Homo sapiens: one gene and its partners. The protein of the gene in region 2 purifies or fractionates together with the protein of the main gene of each other region. This does not show direct contact. Each region holds a gene or a part of one and is shown on either strand. Other genes may lie near its edges. The genes, in order: PFKL, MTHFD1 and ALDH18A1.

Evidence for each region.
Region 1: the proteins of MTHFD1 (region 2) and PFKL fractionate together in Homo sapiens (co-fractionation; 2 studies listed by BioGRID). This does not show direct contact.
Region 3: the proteins of MTHFD1 (region 2) and ALDH18A1 purify together in Homo sapiens (affinity purification with mass spectrometry; 2 studies listed by BioGRID, with this or other methods). This does not show direct contact.

Annotation. Positions count from the first base shown.
Region 1 is NC_000021.9:44,303,050-44,306,794, forward strand, and holds part of PFKL (ATP-dependent 6-phosphofructokinase, liver type), read left to right. Parts: intron 1-508; exon of another isoform or gene 509-564; intron 565-1,225; exon of another isoform or gene 1,226-1,406; intron 1,407-2,123; exon of another isoform or gene 2,124-2,269; coding exon of another isoform or gene 2,270-2,368; intron 2,369-2,750; coding exon of another isoform or gene 2,751-2,886; intron 2,887-3,631; coding exon 3,632-3,705; intron 3,706-3,745. UniProt on the Homo sapiens protein: Catalyzes the phosphorylation of D-fructose 6-phosphate to fructose 1,6-bisphosphate by ATP, the first committing step of glycolysis.
Region 2 is NC_000014.9:64,391,259-64,395,003, forward strand, and holds part of MTHFD1 (C-1-tetrahydrofolate synthase, cytoplasmic), read left to right. Parts: intron 1-3,745. UniProt on the Homo sapiens protein: Trifunctional enzyme that catalyzes the interconversion of three forms of one-carbon-substituted tetrahydrofolate: (6R)-5,10-methylene-5,6,7,8-tetrahydrofolate, 5,10-methenyltetrahydrofolate and (6S)-10-formyltetrahydrofolate.
Region 3 is NC_000010.11:95,654,927-95,658,671, reverse strand, and holds the start of ALDH18A1 (delta-1-pyrroline-5-carboxylate synthase), read left to right. Parts: upstream 1-1,960; 5' UTR 1,961-2,075; exon of another isoform or gene 2,076-2,383; intron 2,384-3,745. UniProt on the Homo sapiens protein: Bifunctional enzyme that converts glutamate to glutamate 5-semialdehyde, an intermediate in the biosynthesis of proline, ornithine and arginine.

The DNA of each region.
Region 1 (3,745 bases), on a different chromosome or scaffold from region 2:
TGGTGAAACCTCGTCTCTACTAAAAATACAAAAAATTAGCTGGGCATGGTGGTGCGCATCTGTAATCCCAGCTACTCAGGAGGCTGAGGCAGGAGAATCGCTTGAACCAGGAGGTGCAGGTTGCAGTGAGCCGAGATCGAGCCACGGCACTCTAGCCTGGGCGACAGAGCGAGACTCTGTTGCAAAAAACAAACAAGAAAAAACCCCAAAAATCAGCCAGGCGTGGTGGTACATGCCTGTAGTCCCAGCTACTCGGGAGGCAGAGGCAGGAGAATCGCTTGAACCGGGGAGGCAGAGGTTGCAGTGAGCCAAGATCCCGCCACTGCACTCCAGCCTGGGTGACAGAACGAGACTCTGTCTCAAAAAAAAAAAACAGACTTGACCAAAAAAAAAAAAAAAAAAAAAATGGCCCGGCCTGCCTATGCCTACCTTCATCTCGCCCTGGCCTGGGCACTTTTAATTCTCTGGGCCCTTTGTCTAGTGCCCCCTCCCTGCCCCTGCAGGACACCGTGCCCTGCCTTTCCCTGGCTGGTGTGTTTGGACGTTGGTTTCCTGTTATCGCAGGTGAGGACTTAGCTTCCTGGCCCGCCACGCCTCCCTGACATGGCCTCCTGTTTGGAGCCTTCAGGCTCATGCTTACATCCTTAGCTGATCATTAAACTTTGTGACCATTTCATGCTCACTGCTTTCTTGCCTGGGAGCTAATGGTGAGGAAAGGTCACTGGGAACCAGCGCACCAACCTCAGACATTGATTTTGTTCCAGCCTTTTTTCCTGGGCAGGGGTGGCTATCACCTGCTGGTAGGCAGCGGCAGGCCCACTGTCCTGCCTGCCCTCTGACTGCGGTGTCGGCGACTGCTGCCCGAGGTTTATTTTGAGAAAGAAAAGCCGATTAAAGGGCCATTAAAAAGGTCTTTTGAAGATTACAGCTTCCAATGAGGTTAACAGAGAAAATTTCCTCCTTCAGGCCGCAGCCAGTCCCGTTCTAAAATCCAGAACGTGTCCCTTTCCAGTCCCGTTCTAAAATCCAGTCCCAACAACAAAGTGGCCATGTGACATGGCCACTTTGTTCTCCTCCCAAGGGCTCAGCACAAAGCTGGGTTTTGGCAGCTTCATTGTCTCCGGGCGTCAAAGCAGGTTTTATTTTGCAGAGCACCCTGAAGACATTTGGAAGTGAGGGGTACCCTTGCTGACCCCTGATCCTGGGGCCCCTTTGCCGTTCCCAGGTCCCCTGACAAGCCCACCAGGCCCCCTGCTGAGATGGCTGTGACCCTGGGCTGACCCGCCCAGTGGCACATTGACTCCGCCTGGAGCTGGGGAGACCAGAGAGGCCCTGTGGTTGGACGGTGGCCTGGGTGCGCTGCTCCTGCCCTCTCCTTGCCCTGCCTCAGCTGCTGCCTGCCAGAGGTGGGCTTGGACCTGTGGTGGGACCAGGTCTGCAGGGAGGGCGAGGGAGGGACGGAGGCTTAGCTTCGGCCAGCTGTGGCTGAGTGGATCTCCCTCACTGCCCCCAACTCCAGTGAGGGTGGGGGACAGGGCGCTGCACTCACAGCACCACCTTGGACGCCCAGCCTCAGGCAGCAGGACTTGGCTCTGCTGACTGTTTTTGGTTGTCGGGTGCTTGGGGTGGCTCAGCTGTCTGGGGGGGGCTCGGCTGTCTGTCTCGGGGGGCTTGGCTGTCTGCGGGGGGCTCGGCTGTCTGGGGGGCTCGGCTGTCTTTCTGGGGGAGCTTGTCTGTCTGTCTGGGGGGCTTGGCTTTCTGGGTGTGTGTGGGATGCTTGCTGGGTTCCCGCCCCAGTTTCAGCTGTAGCAGCCGTGCTCCCATCTATGTGGGGATGTGAGGGAGGCACTGTTCCTTTAGAGACGGCGTTGCTTGCTCAAGTGGAGAAGCTGCCAGTGTGGGCAGCTCCAGCTCCCTGCACGCTCTGTGCTCTGCCCATTCTAACGTCTGTGCCCCTTCTTCTGGATGGCTGCCGGGCTTGGCTCTGGCCCCCCTGTTGGATCCCCTGGCTGCTGGGTGGGGAGAGGGCCACCTACTGAACCTGAGGGTGGGTCTGGGTGAGTCCTGGCTCTGCTGCCACCTGCTGGGCTCTGGAAGGTCCCTCACCCTCCCTCTGGGATCTCATTGGATTCCTGTAGTGTGGGGATGGTGGCAGATACTCTGGCTGCTACGTGAGAACAGTGTGCCGATCCCTGGGGTTTCTCAAGGCGTGGCACCTCACCTCACACCTGCTCCCTGCTGCTGAGCCCCACGCCAAGCTGGAGAGCGGATGAGAAGCATGTGTAACCAGGGTAGAGGTCGAGAGTCCTCTCGTGGGGGTCTCCATGTTCAAGGGAGCTGCCGAGGCTTGAGCAGGAGCCCCCAGCAGGTCAGCACCTCCAGCCTCTGCAAGTACAGGGGGGTGGGAGGGCAGGGGCTTTTGAGGGGCACGAGGCTTGGGGACAGAGGACCCGCATGGCTTAGGGATGGATGGCATGGTATGGGTGCTGGGAGGGAGGCAGGAAGAGCAGGGCTGGTCCCAGGGGCAAGCACAAACTCAGGCCTGTTACACGGCCCCAGACCTCACTCAGAAGGGGACCCTGGCCGCTGGCGTGGGTTTCCTCCTCTCTGAAGATTAGGTGGTCTTGGCTGCCCCTTTTGTATGAAGTCATGGATATCTTTTGAGATGGGGGCTCTCGGGAAGAAGGTGTGGGGTACATTAGCACCAGCGTTTCCTGAGTGCCGCCTCCCCCGTTAATGTCCCTCTCCAGGAAACTGGCTTTGCCAAGGCCCCCGCTGGGACAGACTGTTTCTTTCACTGCAGTCCTGGGAGCCGAGGGCAAGGGGACAGGAAAGAGGAAGTGACCTCAGAGCCTGGTGGCACCAGCATCATGTCCAGGCTGGGGGGTGAGGGTCCCTGAGGCCCTGGGGCAGGGCAGTGCTGTTCCCTGGGTGGCTGAGGCCGGAGGGGCTCTGTTCTCAGTCCCCCATCTCATTGCGGAGGAAGGAGCCCAAGCCCCTTCCAGCAGGTGCTTTCCTCAGTGCCCAGAGGTGCTCCCCGGCTTCTCCATCCCCACGCCGCAGCCTGAATGTCTGGGGTGGGGCCGGTGTGGGAGGTGCCGGCCTCTTTTCCACCTGCCCCACTTTTTATCCTGCTCTGTGGTCAAGGCCTGGCCCCGTGGCCTGTGAGTGTGGGGGCTCCGTGGCAGAGGTTGGGGCGGCGGGGTGTGGAGTTCGGGACACCCACACATGCCTGATTGCCATGCTCTGCATGGGATGTTCCCAGTTTATCTCTGGGCACCATACTCCAGGTGCTCGGAAGCTGAAGCCTAGAGCCTGCTGGGTTCACCCGAGCCTCCACCCGGGGGCCCAGGGCTGGTCCTCAAGTTTCCTGGCCTGGTGCCTCCTGAGATGGGGAGGGTGACCAGGCCTTCCCTACCCCCTGCCCTCTGAGATGGGGAGGGCGTCCGGGCCTTCCCTGACCCTTGCCCTCTTGAGATGAGGAGGGTGACCAGGGCCTTCCCCCACCACCCGCCCTCTGAGATGGACAGGGTGTCCAGGCCTCCCCTACCCCCTGTCCTCTGAGATGGGGAGGGTGTCCAGGGCCTTGCTTCTCAGCGTGGGACTGACAGGTTTGCCCTGACCTCCACAGGCATGAACGCTGCTGTCCGGGCTGTGACGCGCATGGGCATTTATGTGGGTGCCAAAGTCTTCCTCATCTACGAGGTAAGGCCAAGGTGGGCTGTGTGTGTGCAGGGAGTGGGGA
Region 2 (3,745 bases):
GGTTCAAACGATTCTCCTGCCTCAGCCTCCCAGGTAGCTGGGACTACGGGCATGCACTACTATGCCCGGCTAATTTTTGAATTTTTAGTAGAGATGGGGTTTCGCCATGTTGGTCAAGCTGGTCTTGAACTCCTGACCTCAAGTGATCTGTCCACCTCCACCTCCTAAAGTGCTAGGATTACAGGTGTGAGCCACTGCGCCCCCGCTGGCGCTTTGCTTTTTCTTTACAGTCTTCCTCTCATTAGCATGTTTCCCACCCTGCTGAGAATGCTATCCCTGACTCGTCCTCTTCTATTATTATTCTCCTTTTATGCCTTCCTGGGAGCTCGGACATCAACAAAGTTCAGCATTCCAGATTCCTTCTCTACCTGCTCTACTCTGTGGGAAACTGGGTACTTACATGATGGATTTAGTTGCCAAATTATCTTTCTTTGGAAGTAACAGCCCCTTTTCTCCCTCACGGGGAATTCTAAGTTTGCAGCCTGAATTTGACAACCGGGGGAAGGTCTGAGAGTTAGAGACAAGTATCTGTTCTTTGTGGGTATTTATTCACTTACTCAACAAGTAGCTGTATGTGTCCCCTAAGCCAGGCAATCTTCAAAGCTCTGAGAGTCTAATAGTGAACAAAACAGCCCAAATCCCTACCCTCATGAAACTTGCATACTGATGGGTAGAGACAGACATTTAAATAGGTGAAACACATTGTGAGCTGGTGGGAAGCACAAAGAGAACACCAGAGCAGAAAAGAGGGACAGGAGTTTCTGTGGTATGGTGGCTGCAATTTTAAATATGGGAGTCATAGTCTTTGTAAAAGTGACTTACGGGCAAAGACTTGAAGGAGGTGGAGCCTTAAGCCTGCCAATGTTGTGAGGGAAATAGCTCCTGACCAAAAACACAGCCTGTGCCATAGACCTTTGTCCTCACCAGTTACTAACTTACTGCTTTGGGGGGTCAATGGCAATGGCCCTGTGAGAAGCTGACCGAGTGGAGGCTCCTGAGTAGAGGAACCTGACCCTGCCCTGGGCAGAAGGGTGGTGTCTTTTAAAAGATTATGCAAAGTGGGAGAAGGATGTGCATTAGTGTTGGAAGACCCACCTTGCTTTGTAGGCAAGAAAGCATAGTTGTTCTATAAGTGGGCCTTTCAAAGGGGGGCTTACTACATTTATATGATTTGTTTGGTTTTTCCTTCCCTTAGTTTGCTATAATTAAGCCTGCTCTCTCCATTGGTGGCATTTTTCTTGATTAAGTCTCCTTTCTAAAGAGACTGGTTGTGAAGAGGCAGATGGTTTGAGTAGGTGCTGCGAGTGTTTGCTGGCCAAGTGCAGGGCAAGTTGGGTATATTTGTAAGCTCGCTGTGGATGGTAGCTCCAGAGCCTAAGCACGGTGCTGCCTCCTCTGTGCATCACTGGGTCATGCAATTTACCTCTGTGCCTTAGCTTCTGTATATTGGGGTAGTAATGTCACCTAACTCATAAGGTTGTTAGAATTAAATGAGTTTAATACCTATAAAGCATTTAGAGAAGTTGTTGGTACATGGTAAGTTTTAATAAATAGGTACTTAGAAAGTACTCATTGAATAAAAAAGTGATGTTTGTGTTTATCCAGGCTGTACCTTTGGGAGCTGGCTTATAATCTTGAGACTTAAAATTAGAATTTATCCTAGTGATCAAAGATAAAAGTTTGGAACCTTGGCTGTACATTTAGCTACAGGGCTAGAAGAACTGTTTTTGTGAAAATAATTTGCTTACCATAGTGAAGGGCAGGTCTTCTTGGTTACTAAGTTAACATGGATAAGACTTTTACTTTGTCCTGTAGATTAAATACATGTAGGCCCTTTTGTGCTTAAAAAGATTTGTCTGGGCAGGGCGTGGTGGCTCATGCCTGTAATCCTAGGACTTTGGGAGGCCCAGGCAGGAGGATCACCTGAGATCAGGAGTTGGAGACCAGCCTGACTAACATGGTGAAACCCCATCTCTACTAAAAATACAAAATTAGCTGGGCATGGTGGCCCATGCCTGTAATCCCAGCTACTCCAGAGGCTGAGACAGGAGAATGGCTTGAACCTGGGAGGAGGAGGTTGCAGTGAGCCAGTGAGCCAAGATGGCGCCATTGCACTCCAGCCTGGGCAACAAGAGCAAAACTTCATCTCAGAAAGAAAAAAAAAAAAAATTTGCCTGTAATGAACTCCAAAGTGCAGGTTGCTCAAAAGTTACATGGAAACTTGACTGTCATAGCTGGATTGATTCTGGAAGCCTGTGCAGGAGAGGTCGGAGTTCCAGAGAGGCTGGGACCTTCAGCTAGGACCCCAGCCAGGCTGTTGGGCAGGTTGCAGCGATAGTGCAGCAGAGCCCAGAGCTGGCAGCCAACTACTATGGTCATGGCACCTGATTGGGGATGTGGTTTGCAAATAAGTGTCTGTCCTTGTCCATCAGGGGAGTTGGGATCAGGCAGTTTGGGATTTGGGTAGTGGGGTTTTGAGCAGAGGTCTGTGGTTCCCTGTTACATCCCCTATTTGCATGAAGAATCTTCTAGAAGGAAAGCTGGCCTAGTACAGAGGAGGGTCCTTGGAGTGGAAGCAAATGGCTCCCTTCTCCTCTAATTGACTCAGTAGAGGTTGGTAGAATAGAGGTTAAGGGGCAGGGATGCTTGTGTGGCCTTGGAAAAGTTAGCTTCACTTTCCTTTCTGTGCAGTAGGGATGATGAGAACTGTCTACTTCCTGACGTTGCCCCAAGGATTAAAAGAATGTAAGACTCTCAAAACAAGCTTCTTTGACGTCCCATCCACAGTGCAGAAGGCCCCCATTACCCCTGCACTGTGCGGTTGGCTCTCCTTTGCACCCCTTAATTGACCAAAAAGCAGCTTCTGTCACCCTGTAAATCCTTGACCTTGAAGAAGTGGGTGGCTAAAGGTGCCACAGTCAAGATTCCTCAGCCACTCGGCTACTACCCTTACCCTCAATTTTGCAGTTTATGACACTTTAGCCAGAAGCTAAGTGACTTGCCCAGGTGTTCCAAGGTAGGTGGCAGAGGCTCGATGGTGCATTTCTTTCCCTACCATGGGCTTGTCATTGGCTTGCTAGAAGGAATTGCAAACTTCTACCCTCCAGCAGGAGACACCCTGGGTTTGGTTCTCCCTGAGGCCTTTCCATTGTGAGGAAATCATTCCACCCATCAGTCTGGTTGGGAAGCACCCAAACAGATTCTCTTCAAAAAGTCATTTTTGAAGTTATAGTCCAATTTTGACTGGTTAGAGACAGGTCAGACCTACTTACTTTGCTGGCTAAGCTTTTTTTTTTTCTTTGCCCCTCACCACAAGCCTGGACGGGAGACGTACTGCTTGGTATCTGGTGCTTGAGAGGTCCCAGGAGATAAGGGAGCATTTCTGTGAAAGGTTTTGCCAGAGCCTGTCAGGAACTTAATCTTGACTGCAATGAATGACTTAACATTATAAGTGATCTTTGGGTTTAGGTGCCCAAATACCAGTCCCTCCTTAGTAAGCAGCCTTTTAGACCTAACCTTTTCTACCTAAGGTTTTGTTCAGTCTTTTTGAAAAGCAGGAAGGCCAGGTCCTTGTGAGGCTTTTCTCATTACAAGCTCTTGGCAGGTTCTTCCCTCCAAGTGGAGAACCCTTACCTTCCCCATTCTTTCTACCTTCCCCTCTGATGATCCAGAGGGCTGCAAGGGACCTAGAGCTGTTCATTGGAGCCCTAGTCAGCTCTAGCGGCCAGATCTATGGTTAGGTAAT
Region 3 (3,745 bases), on a different chromosome or scaffold from region 2:
TCATATGATCCTGTACTCCTCTCCTCTTTTAGGTAAACTCCTTACTTCTAGTGCTTCAAAGCACAATTTGAATATCAACTCTTTTTAAAGCCATTGTATTAGTCTGTTTTCACACTGTTACAAAGACATACCCAAGACTGGGTAATTTATAAAGAAAAGAGATTTAGATGATTCACAGTTTCACATGGCTGGGGAGGTTTCAGGAAACTTACAATCATGGTGGAAGGGGAAGAGGCAAGTCTTACATGGTGGCAGGCAGGAGAAAGCAAACCAGTGAAGGGGGAAGAGTCCCTTATAAAACCACCAGATCTCATAAGAACTCACTATCACAAGAACAGCATGGGGGAAACAGTCCCATGATCCAATCACCTCCCATCAGGTCCCACCCTCCATAGGTGGGGATTATGGGAATTACAATTCAAGGTGAGATTTGGGTGGGGACACAAAGTCAAACCATTTCAGCCATCCCTGAATGTCTGGCCATCCCATTCTTTAGTATTCATCACATGGTATTGTAATTATTTGCTCATATATCTCTCTCTTCCATAAGGCTGTGAACTCAGCTATGTCTTCTTCCACACCCAGGGAATGCTTGGCTGTCTCAGTCCATTTTGTGCTGCTAAAACACAATAACACAGACTGGATAATTTTTAAATAATAGAAATTTATTTCTCACAGTTCTAGAGGCTAGGAAGTCCAAGATCAAGGTGCCAGCATCTGGTGAGGGCTTTCTTGCTGTATCCTCACGTGGTGGAAGGGCAGAAGAGCAGAAGAGAACACCCACCTCCACAAACCTTTTGATAGCAGCATTAATCTATTCATGAGGGTCACTCTATTCATAAAGGTGGAGCACTCTTGACCCAAATGCCTCCCATTAGGCCCCACCTCCCAATATTCTTGCATTGGGAATTAAGTTTCCAACATATGAATTTTGGGGGACATATTCAGACCATAGCAGTAGCCAGTGTTTAATAAACAAGAAAATGAATAAATAGGCTTAGTAGTGTTATCAGGGACGACAGAAGGGCATGATGCCTTTCTGTGCCCAACCTCCTATCAAGTGCTGCCCTCCCACCACCCAGCACTATGTGCCTATGCAGGAATGTGTCCTTTGAGCAAAATACAGCAAGGAAAGAGGGAGAAAAATCTGTGTTTTCACTTTTTTTCTTTTTCTTTTTAAGAGGTGGGGTCTTGCTGTGTTGTCCAGGCTGGATTTGAACTCCTGGGCTCAGGTGGTTCTCCTGCCTCCACCTACGAGTAGCTGGGACTACAGGCACACACCACAGTGCCAGGTTTTTGTGGTCTCTCTTTAAAGGTGAGTCTGCATTCACCTTTGGAATAGTTCTAGTTGTCATAGATTGAATATCCTATTTTAAAATGCAATATTCTTACAACTGCCTTTGATGAAAGGGAGTTGAGATGGGACCATTGGGGAAACCTCCAGATGACTAGGGGGCAAGTAATTTGATTGCAGTGCCAAAATGCTTCCATTTAAGGAGCCAAAGTTTGCAAATGTGTGTAAACTGATCCAATCTATTCCCAGGATGTGCCTGAAGTAACAAACATATGTAAGTTGATCCAACCTATTTCCGAGGTGTGCCCGGGATATAAATGGTTAACATTGACAAACACACCTTATGAAATCTACCAGCAGCTGAGGGTGCCAGGCACCTCTTCTACCTCCCTGGAAGGCCCAGTGGGGCGGCGTTTCGAAGGTGTCTTCGCCCCTGTCTCCGGCCCCTGTCCCCTCCCGGGACGTGGGCGTTCCCCCTGAACTCGAGTCCCGCCTCTTCCAGGCTGCCGGGGCCTGGTGGGCTGGCCCGCCACGTGGAGCGCTGGCTTGATTCTCGAAAGGGGCCTACGCCATTGCCGCGCCGCAGCTCCAGGACAGGCCCTCGCCCCACGTCAACAGCGTAGGGCCGGCTGCCCAGGTTTACTCTTACGCCACTGACGTAACGTCATCGTGCGGGACGTGGACGGAAGAAAAAAGAGAGTGAGCGAGCGCCGGAATCAGCCCGGCGTGGAGTGCGGACCCGCGGTAGTGCCAGGGGGCGAAGGCGGCGGTGGTGAGGAAGGTACGCGGCGAGCGGCGGGGATGGCTAGGCGCCCGCGTCTCTGCGGAAGCTGTTGCGCGCCCAGGCTCAAGCGCGAGGGGCGTGAGCGCCGGGCCGCTGGAGCGGGGACGCTGCCGGAGCAGGTGCCGGGGCCCGGGGATCTGGCCCATGGGTAGGTGTGGGCCTCGGCCGAGGGATGGCGGCTGCATCGGGCCGCCCAGGGCGCGCTGCAAGACCGTGGCGCGCTCCCATATGCCGGTGCGCGGCCGCCCCGGGATCTACGGATGGCTACGGGCCCTGACCTCCCCGGCCTCCCCTGGGTACACCATGTAAGGAACTGGGCCAAGTGGAGACTTCAGGCATCCGCGGGCCCCTTCTTTCCAAGAGTATGGAGCCTGCACTGGTGGGTGGCGTGGGTGGCGGTGGTGGCAGCGCCGGGATGCCGCGGGTTTTAGCTGGCCGCACGCTGACTCTCAGGGGCCTGGGTCCCTAGTTCCCCGCGGCCCTCCAGGCGTTCATCATCCCCTCCTCAAAGCCAGACTCCCTTTGCAGTATGGCATTCTGTGTATGCTGGGGTCTTCCTGTTACAGCAGGACGCACCCACATACCCCACCTCGTCCTTCCCCCATCATTATCCCCTGCCCTCTGAGGTGGTGAGGCCCATCGGATCTTTGTATTTAAGTGGTGAGCCATATACCGAGCATGTGTTTGTGGGTGAACTGTGCTGGGACTGAGGTTCACTTCTCTGTTCAAATCAGTTAGATAAGGGCATTCTGTTTAGTCTGTAAAGAGATATTGAGAAATGTCTTGAGTCAAAACGTGAAAACTTTCTTCAACTGATGATATGGAGTCTAAACACACACACAGAGTCGAGACACAGTCACACAAATCTAGACACGAGTCTAGATACACACACACACACACACACACACACACTCTCTTTGCTCCTTGGGATCAACTGTGTGCTTCTCGAGGGCGTAATACACTCTGCCTGGTCAGTCAGAGATGGTGGTACAGGGGAGAGGTCAGGAGGCTTGGTTTCTACGTCAGTCTTCAATCTCTTATTTCAGTGACCGTAGGTGTTCAGAGCTTTCAATGACTCTTGGTTAATAGAGAGGTAAACAGTCAGTCAATATATGTGTGTGATTGTATCTAATAGTGAATATTCGTTGAATTCTTTGTTCCCGTGATGGGTCTTGAAGGAAATTAAGGAAAAAATAATTGTAAGGCATCATTAGTGCCTAAAAGACAAAAGGAGGAAAACTGACATTTACTGACCATTTGTTGTACCCAAGCACTTTCCACGCATTCTCTCTTTTAATTCTCACTATAATTTCATGAGGTCCATAGTGTTAGTATCCCTGATTTATAAGTGAGGAAACAGAGGCTTAGAAAAATTGGGTAACTCTTACATATGTAACTAACCTGCACATTGTGCACATGTACCCTAAAACTTAAAGTATAATAATAATAATAATAATAATAATAAAGAAAAATTGGGTAACTCTCCACAAGACACACAGCAAGTGCAGAGCTCGAACCCAAATCTGACCAACTTCAAAGGCCTTGTTCCTCATCGTTTTTGCCATATTGTCAATGGAAAGTTTGTAATCCAGATGGGAAAAGCAGTAGTCATGAGCTATTTAAAAGCTAACCTATAGAATTATATCCAGCTGTGAAGACTAGCCTTG